Homo sapiens: one gene and its partner. The protein of the gene in region 1 interacts with the protein of each later gene in a pairwise test. Each region holds a gene or a part of one and is shown on either strand. Other genes may lie near its edges.

Evidence for each region. Proteins that work in one complex are often made in the same cells at the same time.
Region 2: the proteins of GLP1R (region 1) and PAM interact in a protein complementation assay, tested with the Homo sapiens proteins (one study listed by BioGRID).

What each region holds. Positions count from the first base shown.
Region 1 is NC_000006.12:39,075,434-39,080,994, reverse strand, and holds part of GLP1R (glucagon-like peptide 1 receptor precursor), read right to left. Parts: intron 3,466-5,561; exon of another isoform or gene 3,082-3,465; intron 2,674-3,081; coding exon 2,613-2,673; exon of another isoform or gene 2,528-2,612; intron 2,099-2,527; exon of another isoform or gene 2,039-2,098; coding exon 1,969-2,038; intron 1,884-1,968; coding exon 1,795-1,883; intron 1,432-1,794; coding exon 1,293-1,431; intron 298-1,292; coding exon 256-297; intron 1-255.
Region 2 is NC_000005.10:102,760,777-102,765,349, reverse strand, and holds part of PAM (peptidyl-glycine alpha-amidating monooxygenase isoform e preproprotein), read right to left. Parts: intron 1-4,573. UniProt on the Homo sapiens protein: Bifunctional enzyme that catalyzes amidation of the C-terminus of proteins. Alpha-amidation is present at the C-terminus of many endocrine hormones and neuropeptides and is required for their activity.

The DNA of each region.
Region 1 (5,561 bases):
GTCTGGGTCTTCCTTAGGGTCACATGCCATTAGGGTATACCTGTACATGTACTTGTGTGTGTGTGTTCATGTGTGAGAGAGACCATGCACAGAAAACCAAATCTGTGGACAAGATGGCTTCTCAACCCTAGTGCCTCAGTGAGGTGAGTAGGGGGTTTCAGCTGGCAAGATTGATGGGAGTCCCCATTGTACTACTCCAGACGGGCTGATGGTACCCACCCACCAGGGTCCCCACCGTCCCTCCTCAGAGCTTACCTCATTGTTGACAAAGCAGTATAATATGGCCACCATCAGCCCCTGGAAACAAGAGTCACATCAAGAGGGAGGAAGCAGGAGGGAGGTGCCCTGCAGACTGGCCCTGGTCGGAAGCACTTTGGGACTCCATCCTCAACAACCCCCTCCCCAAATCCAGCGGCCCAGGCAGATCCAGGAATGGGGCAGTGGCTTCCCTCTCATTTCCTTTCTGAAGGAACACCAGGGTTGCACCTCTGCGACTAGGCCTGGCTACAGGCCCCAGCTAGCCTCTCCCCATGGGTCTCCCAGGCATGTGCCATGGGGTCCAGGAGACCCTGCTCAGAAGCTGCCCAGAAGCTGTAGAGATCCTACATCCAACCTCTCCTTGAGGAGGCCTGATCCAGTGAAGTACAATGACTCTGATCATGGAGAATATTCCCCACTCCAGCCCCATCTGTTCATGAAGGAGACCCAGGGCTCCAGAATTGTGTTCTGTATGTCTGCACATGTATGTAAATACACACACATGAGCCCACATGTGTGCAGGCATCTCATGACACTCTTGAGGGGCAGGCAGGGACCAGTTTTTTTGTATTTTTACACCCCCTTAGCATCATCTAATGCTAGTGGAGAGGATCAGTTCTTTTCTTTGAAACTGTGACACCGTAACTCTGGTTTTAACACCTCTGAGTCTCCTCTGTAAAGTGAGGCTAACCCTGCACATCTCCTGGGTTCTGTGAGGAGTAAATGCACAATGCATGTAAAGCACCTGGCAGGGTGCTCGCCACCAAGTAGATGGCAGCTGCAATGCCAGGCTGGTACCCAGAGCTACATCCAGGAAGGCTTCTTGTCCCATGTGCTTACAGAGAAGACTGGCCCAGGTATTGGGACACCTGGGGATACTAGTTCTGGCTCTGCTCCAACTAGGTGACTTTGGGCAGGGATCACCCCTCCAGGTCCCAGTCTTCCCACCTTTTCCATCTGCATGATGCAGGCTGGTGTCTGTCCCACCCCCACTCTAGGACTTTACAAGCAAGTGTCCCCAAGCATGAAGTCACCTGGAAGGAGGTGAAGGAGAGCTCTGTAAACAGCTTGATGAAGCGCAGGGTCCCCCGGGCGTGCTCGTCCATCACAAAGGCAAAGATGACCTCATGAGTCCCCAGCAGGGGGATGAGTGTCAGCGTGGACTTGGCAAGTCTGAGGGGCAGGGCAGAGATCTCGAGTCATTCTGGACCTCTCCCATGGACTCTTCTTCCCTTTCTCTACCCTCCCCACTTCCTACCAAGTCCTGATATCTGGGTCATGGATGTTCTCCCACCCCAAATACCCTGGGACAGGCTGCCTGGAGGGAAAGAATAGAGGTCAAGACCCCAACAAGTCCAGGGGCTGCCCAGAGACAGGGCAAAAGCAAGGGTTTGGGGTCCAAGGCCAGGCCTGGGTGGAAGGAGAGGGTAGTGTAGGGCTCTAAGCTAAGCATCCCAGGATCTCTCTCTCTCTCTCTGCTAGAAGGAAAGGGGCACTTGCTGAGGGTCCTCAGTAAAGCCAGCTCAGTTACATCACCTGCATTTGATGTCTGTCTTGCACATGAGATTGGCCTTCAGTTTGGATACCACGATGCAGATGACCCGAACAAAGATGAGGAAGTTCACCTGCGGGGTGGGGCCGGGGATTGGCAGGGGGCACCAGCCCAGCCCTATCATAGCTGCCACTCCCATCCCTGACACCATCACTCACCCCAATGGCAAAGAGAATGGGCAGCCGGATAATGAGCCAGTAGTTCATGTTGGAGTTCCTGGTCCAGCAGCTGGGGAGGGAGAGAGATGCACACATGCATCCAGCAGGACTCACAGGACCCCCAGCTCAGGTGCAGGCACAGAGGCCGCCAATGCACATGGCCATGTTGAGTGCCACACACACAGCTCCCAGGAGCCACCCAAAAACCAGTCCCATGGACCCACAGAGCCCTGCCAGTGCACAGCCACACAACACACACGCATAGTCCAAATACACAGTCATACACAGAGATGCACACAGCCCCCAAACAAGCTTTCAAGGACCTACCAACACAGTCATGTGTGTACCCAGCATCATATACAAAATGACACAAACATTTCACTTGCAGATATTACAGAAAAACCTGCAGGAGGGCACCATGTACCCCACAGACCCAGTTCCGTTAGTCATCAAACAATCCTGGGACAGGGGCAGGGGCAGGGGCAGGGGCAGGGAGGGGAGATTAGAGAACTAAATTCACCTTCTAAGCTCCTGGTACCCCCCTTTATCCTCTCAACAGATGGGTGCCCCAGGTACCAAGGAATCCCATGGACCTTGAGGATGGGGACCTGGGCACACCCGCCCCCTTGGAGCAGGACACTCACCCCTCGTCCTCATAGAGGTACTTGACAATGCCCCAGGGGACAACAAACAGCAGGGGAACACCTAAGAGAGAGGGAAAGACAGAAGGGGAGAGGGGCTGGCAGGCCAGAGCCACAGTCTACATGCCGAGGCCTCTCCCTGCCCCAAGCCCCTCACACTTCCAGCCCCTCTCCTTGCCTGGCCTCCAACTATGTTTTCTAGTTTTTTTCTGGGCACCTGGGAGAACAGAGGCAGCAGGAGCCCCATGCGGACCCCCAGACTCTTCCTTACAGAGAGGTCCTCATCAGTCATCAGTCCCCCACCTCCTGTGTGCCAGGCACACTGTCAGGACTTGCCCTCAGAGTCCCGGCTAAGTTACCAGGCCACAGACACACAAACAGCAGCGGGACTGGGCCATGCGGTGGGGACAGCATGACGGATGAGGCAAGGAGCAGGCGAACCCTCTGATGCCCATTTTCTCTCTTGCTTCAGCCCACGTTGCCAGTCAACTCCTAAAGGCACTGGATGTCCTTTCAGTCATCTCTTCCCTACCACTGTGCACCTTCAAGAGGGCTCGGCAGAATCCTGGAATGGAGACAGGAGCCCAGTCCTTGATGCCAGCTGACCAACTAACTGTCCGCAGTGGCCTACAATAACAACAGCTACAACAATACTACTTTCCACTCGGCTGAGACTTGACTTGTGTAGTAGACAGCCTCTAAGATGGCCCCTAGGGATCCCCACCTCCTGTGCTCATACCCTTGGGTAGTTAGTCCACGTTGTATCAGCATTGTTTCATGTGACCCAGGAACCTCTGGCAGAAGTGATGGCATGTCACTTCTGATTGTTATAAAAGACACTGTGGCTTGTTTTGCATTCTCTTTCTCTTTCTCTGATCACTTGCTCTGGGGGAAACCAGTTGCCATGTGCTGAGAGAACTCAGAAGGCCTAGATGGAGGTCTCTGCAGCAAGAAATGGAGGCCTCCAGCCTTTGGCCAGCAACTGCGGCTTCCTGCCAACTGCCTCTTGAATGAGCTTGGAAGTAGATTCTCCATCCCCAGTTAAGCCTTGAGATGACAGCAACCCTGGTGACAGCTGGCTGCTTCTCTGAGAGTGCCCTGATCCTAGAAGGAGGTCTCAGAGAGAAGGGACAGCAGGGGGTGGGGGATGCCCAAGAAGGAAGTTTCTATATGTGTATGTGATTCAGGAAATCCACATGCTCTTGCCTAAAGAGTTTTCTCTGTGAGATCCTGAGCCACAAGGTACCCAGCTAAGTTGAACCGAGATTGCAGGCCACAGGAACTGTGAGATAACAATGGTTCGTTGTTTTAAGTAGCTAAGTTTCAGGGTTAATCGTTCTGCAGCAATAGAGAATTAATACAACTGGTTCCCAGTTCCTTGAGGGTAGAGCCTGGGCCTCACTCACCTTCAGAGCCTCAATGCCCAGATCACCCTGAGAGCTCAGGGTCTGTGTTGGTTGATTTAAAATTGGATTTTCCTTCCTCACATGACATATGAGGAGATGGATCAGGGACTCAGAAGGGCACAGGTGGGGCTCGAATTCAGGGCTGCAATCCCATACCCACTCCCACCGCCCTCAATGGCCTTCTGCACTGGCTGTCTCCATGCTCGTCTCCGTTGGCCCCTCCCTCAGTGTTGGAGATGTGTCTGAGATAGGTAAGCATGTGCATATTAAGGTATGTAGACATGTGTGTGTGAGGGTGTGGTGGGTGGACCATGAGTGTGCACGTATGACTTTGGGAATCTCTGCCTGGAGCACATTTCCAGGACAGAACCACTTCATAGCCTTTCCTGTCACCATTGTCTATGTCTTTAGCACATCAGTGTCCACTCAACAGCAGCTACTAAGCAGGTTGTGTGCCCAGATCTACTGTGCCTGATGATGCAGGGAGAGATGGAGGAGGCAAAGGAGCCCCCAGCGGACCAGCATTCTTCATCAGCTCTCTCTCTCCTGGCCCATTGATTTCTACACAAATCGGACCTCTCAGCATCTACGGTGCTTTAGTAACAGGCCTTTATGAGACTGGACAAGGAATGGGATGGTCTCCAAAGGCCCCAGCACATGGTACAGGCCCTGCCACATAGAAGATGCCCAGTGAGAATGGAACGAATGATGGGTGAGTCAACACACCAATAAGGGAAGGAACATTGTCTGGGCAAGAGCATGCCGATTTCCTGAACCACGTACACATGCAGAAGCTTCCTTCTGGGTATCCCTCGCCCCCTGCTGTCCCTTCTCTCTGAGACCTCCTTCCAGGATCAGGGCACTCACCCATGTTATCAGCCAGACCTGGCAAGTTTCACTCATCGTCAGCATTTCCTTAACAAGGCCTTTTCAAAAAACACAGTCACGAAAGCCCTGCTGCATGCAAACATTACGCACTCCCTGCTGGCTTCATCTTTCTCCCATTTAGAAAACGAGCAAGACAGGTTGGAGAAAAAAGCTCAAATTAAGACACACACAACTGGCTCCAGGAAGTAATGATTCCCTCAACCATCATTTGCCTCCCTCTTGCACAGCCTCCATGTGGGTTTCTACAGGCCCCCAACTGCCTGGGGACTGCAGCAGAAGCTGCCATGCCCTTTGGGGGACCTCTCCAACTGTGTCAGAGTCCTAATTTTAATTCTTCCACTTGCACATGAAGCTGAAAGTTGTTTCCCAAGTATCCCAGCTTGGGCAAGGCCTCCTGGCATCACGTCTGAGCTCCTAGCAACCTGTGAATCTCTCTCCGTCTCCCCCACCCCAATCCTCAAGAAAAAGGTGTTCTGATTAGAGCAGGGTGTCCTCCGGGTCTTGCCCTTGTGCTCCCACAGACCCCGAGCCCTGAGCTAGGGTGTGAGGTGGTAGGAAAAGGACTTGGCACTCCCTCCCCCATCTCCCACTCAGAGACCTCTAGGGCAGTGTGTCCCCACCAAACTCCAGCCACCCCCGCTCCTCTGCACACATCACA
Region 2 (4,573 bases), on another chromosome or scaffold:
CAACTACACTGAATGAAAGAAGGGAGGCTTGGTATCTTCATCTTATTGACAAGAAACCTGAACGTTGACTGTTTTGGCCAATGTCACATATATACATGGCAGGGCAACTACTGGTGCCAAATCTTTTCTAGGAAAAATGAATACAATCATGAATATTTTAACTTGGAACAATGGTGGCACTTTAAAAGTAGAGCTTCTTCAAGTGACTCAAGGAAGGACAAAAATAACATCACATAGACTGAGTAGGCTGAGGGGTTCTGTGATCCAGGTAAGCTGGAATAAATCAGAAGAAACTGGTGGAAAAAATAACTCTTGAAGGAAGTGATGGAAATAGGCCAATAGAAAGAAAAGAGGCTTCATGATGAATAAAAACAATGCCAAAAAAGAAAAGAATAAATTATGTGGAAAGCCTAAACAAACATTAAAGGGAAGCCTTCAACTGAATAAGAAGTACAGAAAGGGTTGCAACAGCATGTGGGGTTGAAGTAAGATTGGGGACTTTTAGCTGGGCTGATGAAGGGATTGTCATTGACAAGACAGACAAGCAGTTACCACTGACAGTTTTTGAGCACGGTTTGCTGTTGTGGTAAAGGAAGCTGTTCTAGTAGCTGTGTTAAAATCAGTTTAGTGGCGGAGCAACCTGGGATTGTAGTTGATATAGTAAGGGACTTTGAAAAACTGATCAGGACTGAAGATAATGACCCCATATAGATGCTTTAAGTTTTAGCTACCAGCAAGACATTCTTAACACTTTTCTTCCCTCACGCCCCGTATTTCTGGACATACTGGCCTTCTTGGTATTCCTTGGTGGTGGAGGTATAGAGGCAGAGTTCCTTTGTTCCAGCCTCAATATCTTATACCTGTTACCGCTGCTTCGTAGAGAATCTTTGCACAGTTAGTTCCCCGACTTCATCTGGGTTTTTGCTCAAATGCTACCTCTTCAAGAGGTTTTTGTTGACCATCCTGTGTAAGAGGACCCTCTGCTATCATTCTCCATTCCCTTATTTGCCTAATTTTTCTTTACAGGACTTATTAGTACCTGAAATTATATATATATTTATTATATATATGTTTTTAATATATATGTTACACTTAATGATTATCTGTCACTCCCATTAATAAGTAAGCTCCATGAGTCCAAGGACATTTTATGTACTGTTCAGAGTTTTATTCCTAGAGCCTGGCACAGAGAGTAGCATAAAGTAGGGAGTCGCTAAATATTTTTTGAATAAATAAAAGAAAACCCCAACTTATTCCCGAGTTCAATTAATGGTATTCCCCCCAAAACACTTTCGATCTATCTTCACTGCCACTTCCCAGTATCCACCACCAGACTGGTACACACTGTCATGTCAAATTAAATTAATGCAAGAGCTACCCAATTTCACCCCACTGACATGCACACCCCAATCCAACTCACGCCCCCACAGATGATCTTACCAAAACACAAATCACATCAAGTCCCCAGCTCCGACCTAAAACACTCTCCTATGTTCTTATGAGGAAAACCAAATTCTTCATGTGGCCAGCAAGACCCTTTGTGGACTGGCCGGCCACCAGCCAAGGGGTCCAGCCTCACAGTAGCTCTTCTCTCCCCTTGATCTTCCTCAGTTACTTGATTTCATTCTGTTCCCTTCTGTAAAGGGCCTCTGCACAAATGGCAGTTCTCTCTGCTTTCTGGAACACTTTTCTTCCTACCCTATCTCACATTCTCCTACTCATACTTCAGATATCAATCAAGTGTCACTTCCTCAGGTTCCTATTATATAAGCCCACAAAATTCTACTGTTCTATTCAGAGCATTTACCTCTGCCTGTAATTATACATAATTATTTGTTGTTGTTGTTGTTGTTGCTGTCGTGTGTAAATTTTATTAGGGATTGTCTTCCTCCTATACTCTTCACTCCATGATAATGCAGACCAGGAATTTTTTGCTCATTATTGGATCTCTGGGGTCAAGAACAGTGCTAGGTACATGGCTGACACTGAATGAATATTTGTTGAATAAGTGAAACCCAAGAGCTAGAGGTCACTGTCAAATACATAGATAAAAAATTTTTCCACTAATACTGAGGTAAAGCTGGAGGCAAAGATATTAGTGAAAATCTATAATAGGACTTAGAGCTATTATTAAAACAGAAGGAGAGTGGAGGAACCCAGGACAATGCAAGCTGAAACAGTGCTAACTATCTACTGGATAATCATGGGACCAAGAGAGTCTGTTTAATTAGGGAACTAGACAAGAACTAGTTCAAATAATTTACTGACACCAGGTAGTTATGACTTAGGTAGTGACAGTAACTAGGTGAAAGGTTACATTTACATATCCTATTAACAGCTCCTTGACTCATCATCAGTCTGCTCTGGAAACATTTATCTGTGCAGAGAAACCATTAAAACTTTCCTCTCCTTGGCATTTTCTATTATAAAAATTCTGCAAAAAGTCCTTAGTTCCCTGGAAAATGTTTTAAAGGCATTTCACTCTGGTCGATTAGGCATACAGTAATAGCTAAGTGAGGCAGGGGCCACAGAGGAAATGGCATATAATAGAAAGAACCACTTCGCTCCTGATTAAAGTTACTCATGTGCAGCTTGAGAAAATGTACACACCAGAAAGCTCTGAGCACTACAGGGTATCACGGGTTAAAGGACAAGGCCTAATTTTTTTTTAACCCTCATTGTTACCGCTTTATTCCCCAAACACTAGAACCAATATAATTCTAAATTCTCCCCAGGGAAAGAAGGAGTTTATTAGCTTACTTTTATTTCCTTATTTCAGGCTTCTTTTAAAATAAGATGTAGCATTGATGAGCATGAAAAAAAAAATCTAATATTGCTTCCACTCATTGAAACCCATCAGTGACTCATGCAATAAACAGCAAGTCTCCTGGTTTTGTTTCTGAAGAGGGCACACCAACAGTTTCAACAGCATACTCCAGTTTTACTGGAAACAGTTCTCAAAAGATGACTTACCACACCCTGCCTGAGAAAGGACAGCATGAAACTGGGGAAAATTCTGATCTTCAGAAATACAACAGACAATGAGTATTTCCAATTTCATGCTGTTTATATGAAGAGAACAGAGGCACAAGGCAAGACAAGCCTGAAGCACAGGTAAGAACTGTGGCAAATAAAAGAGAAAGGAAAAATGAAAGCACACTGAACAAGTGACTTTACCAGATTCAGCAGGGCTGAGGAAGGGGAATTTGGGGGAGATAACCAGAGTTTTCTACCCCTACAAAAATAAGATTTCAAAACTCACAATTAAAAGAAAAAGACATTTAACAAAGTAACGTTTTTAAACTAAATGGGGAAAAATCTCACTAGTTAACAAATGCCTGCTTTATGCAAGGGACTCTACCTTTATACAAACCCTAATAGCATATGACCTCGGCTCTCCCAGAATTCACTGAATTTGAAAGGAATGTCTATGAAAATAAGGATTTGTTGATGTAATTAGTAATGTAAATAACAGGTATACATATAACCTACAAAAAGTTTTCTTTAAACACTATAGAAGCCTCCAGTTACATGCAACAATTATCATGCTATTCAAAATTAACTAATATCTTCATAAAAGTTCCCTTCAAAAGAGTTCTAAAAGATAACATAAGTGCTTAAAAATAATAAATTCTATCTTTAAAATATTCTAAACTTCAGACTTTTAAAAGCTTGAATTAATCTTTATATAAGTAAAATGTTACTGCACTACAAATGAGTACTATTTTAAAACAAACTTACTTTGGCATAAATAAGTGAAATTCTCAAGATATGAAATTTATAAGGCATTTTTAGCCACGGAAAAAGCAGGTAGTAGTATGATTCTTCCATAAGGGCCTCAGACTTTACTTTTATTTATTTCTACCACTGTTTTTGTTTTGCTTATGTTGTACATGCAGCAGTGAACTGTACACTCAATGCAGGTAAAAACCGTCCTTTGTTACTGCAACTGTTGGCTGGACCTATTATTCTTTGTGCATTTGCTTCCCAGTACTTGTGGCCCACACTCTCTACAAAATGAGCTTCTCCTATCTGATAGGGAAGCAGATCTGCTGCTTTGATTGTTTCCTTAATTCTGCGGTGTCATTTAAAGTTGTACTTTAAAGTATTATGTTTTATATTTTTTGAGTCCAGTTCCCTCCTTTCTTGAAGCTACCCTCTTAAACTCCCTGAACAAGAGCCATCTGGAAATCTTGTTCCTGTCCTCCATCCTTTCTGTGAGACCACACCAGCACAGCTGGGTTGCAGCAGGCACTGCCGAGGTGCTGCTGGACTGGCTATGCTCCAGACCCTCACTGTTAACATGCAATTCTTGTCCTTTTGTGTTAAGCATGGTTAGTAGACAAAGCTCAAGACAGTGTTCAGCAGTTCAATCTCCTTTGGGCACAGATCCTAATCTCACAATCACACATGATTTGAGTAACGCTGTTTATATGTAGAACTTCTGTTGCTACATGGTCCCAGTCTGCCCAGTCTCCAAATTGACAGTGTAGATACTTTTCCACTTTTCTTTTCCCCAAGAGGCCTGAACTAAGTACTGTATAGGTTATCCAAACAGAAATATTTTCTTTGT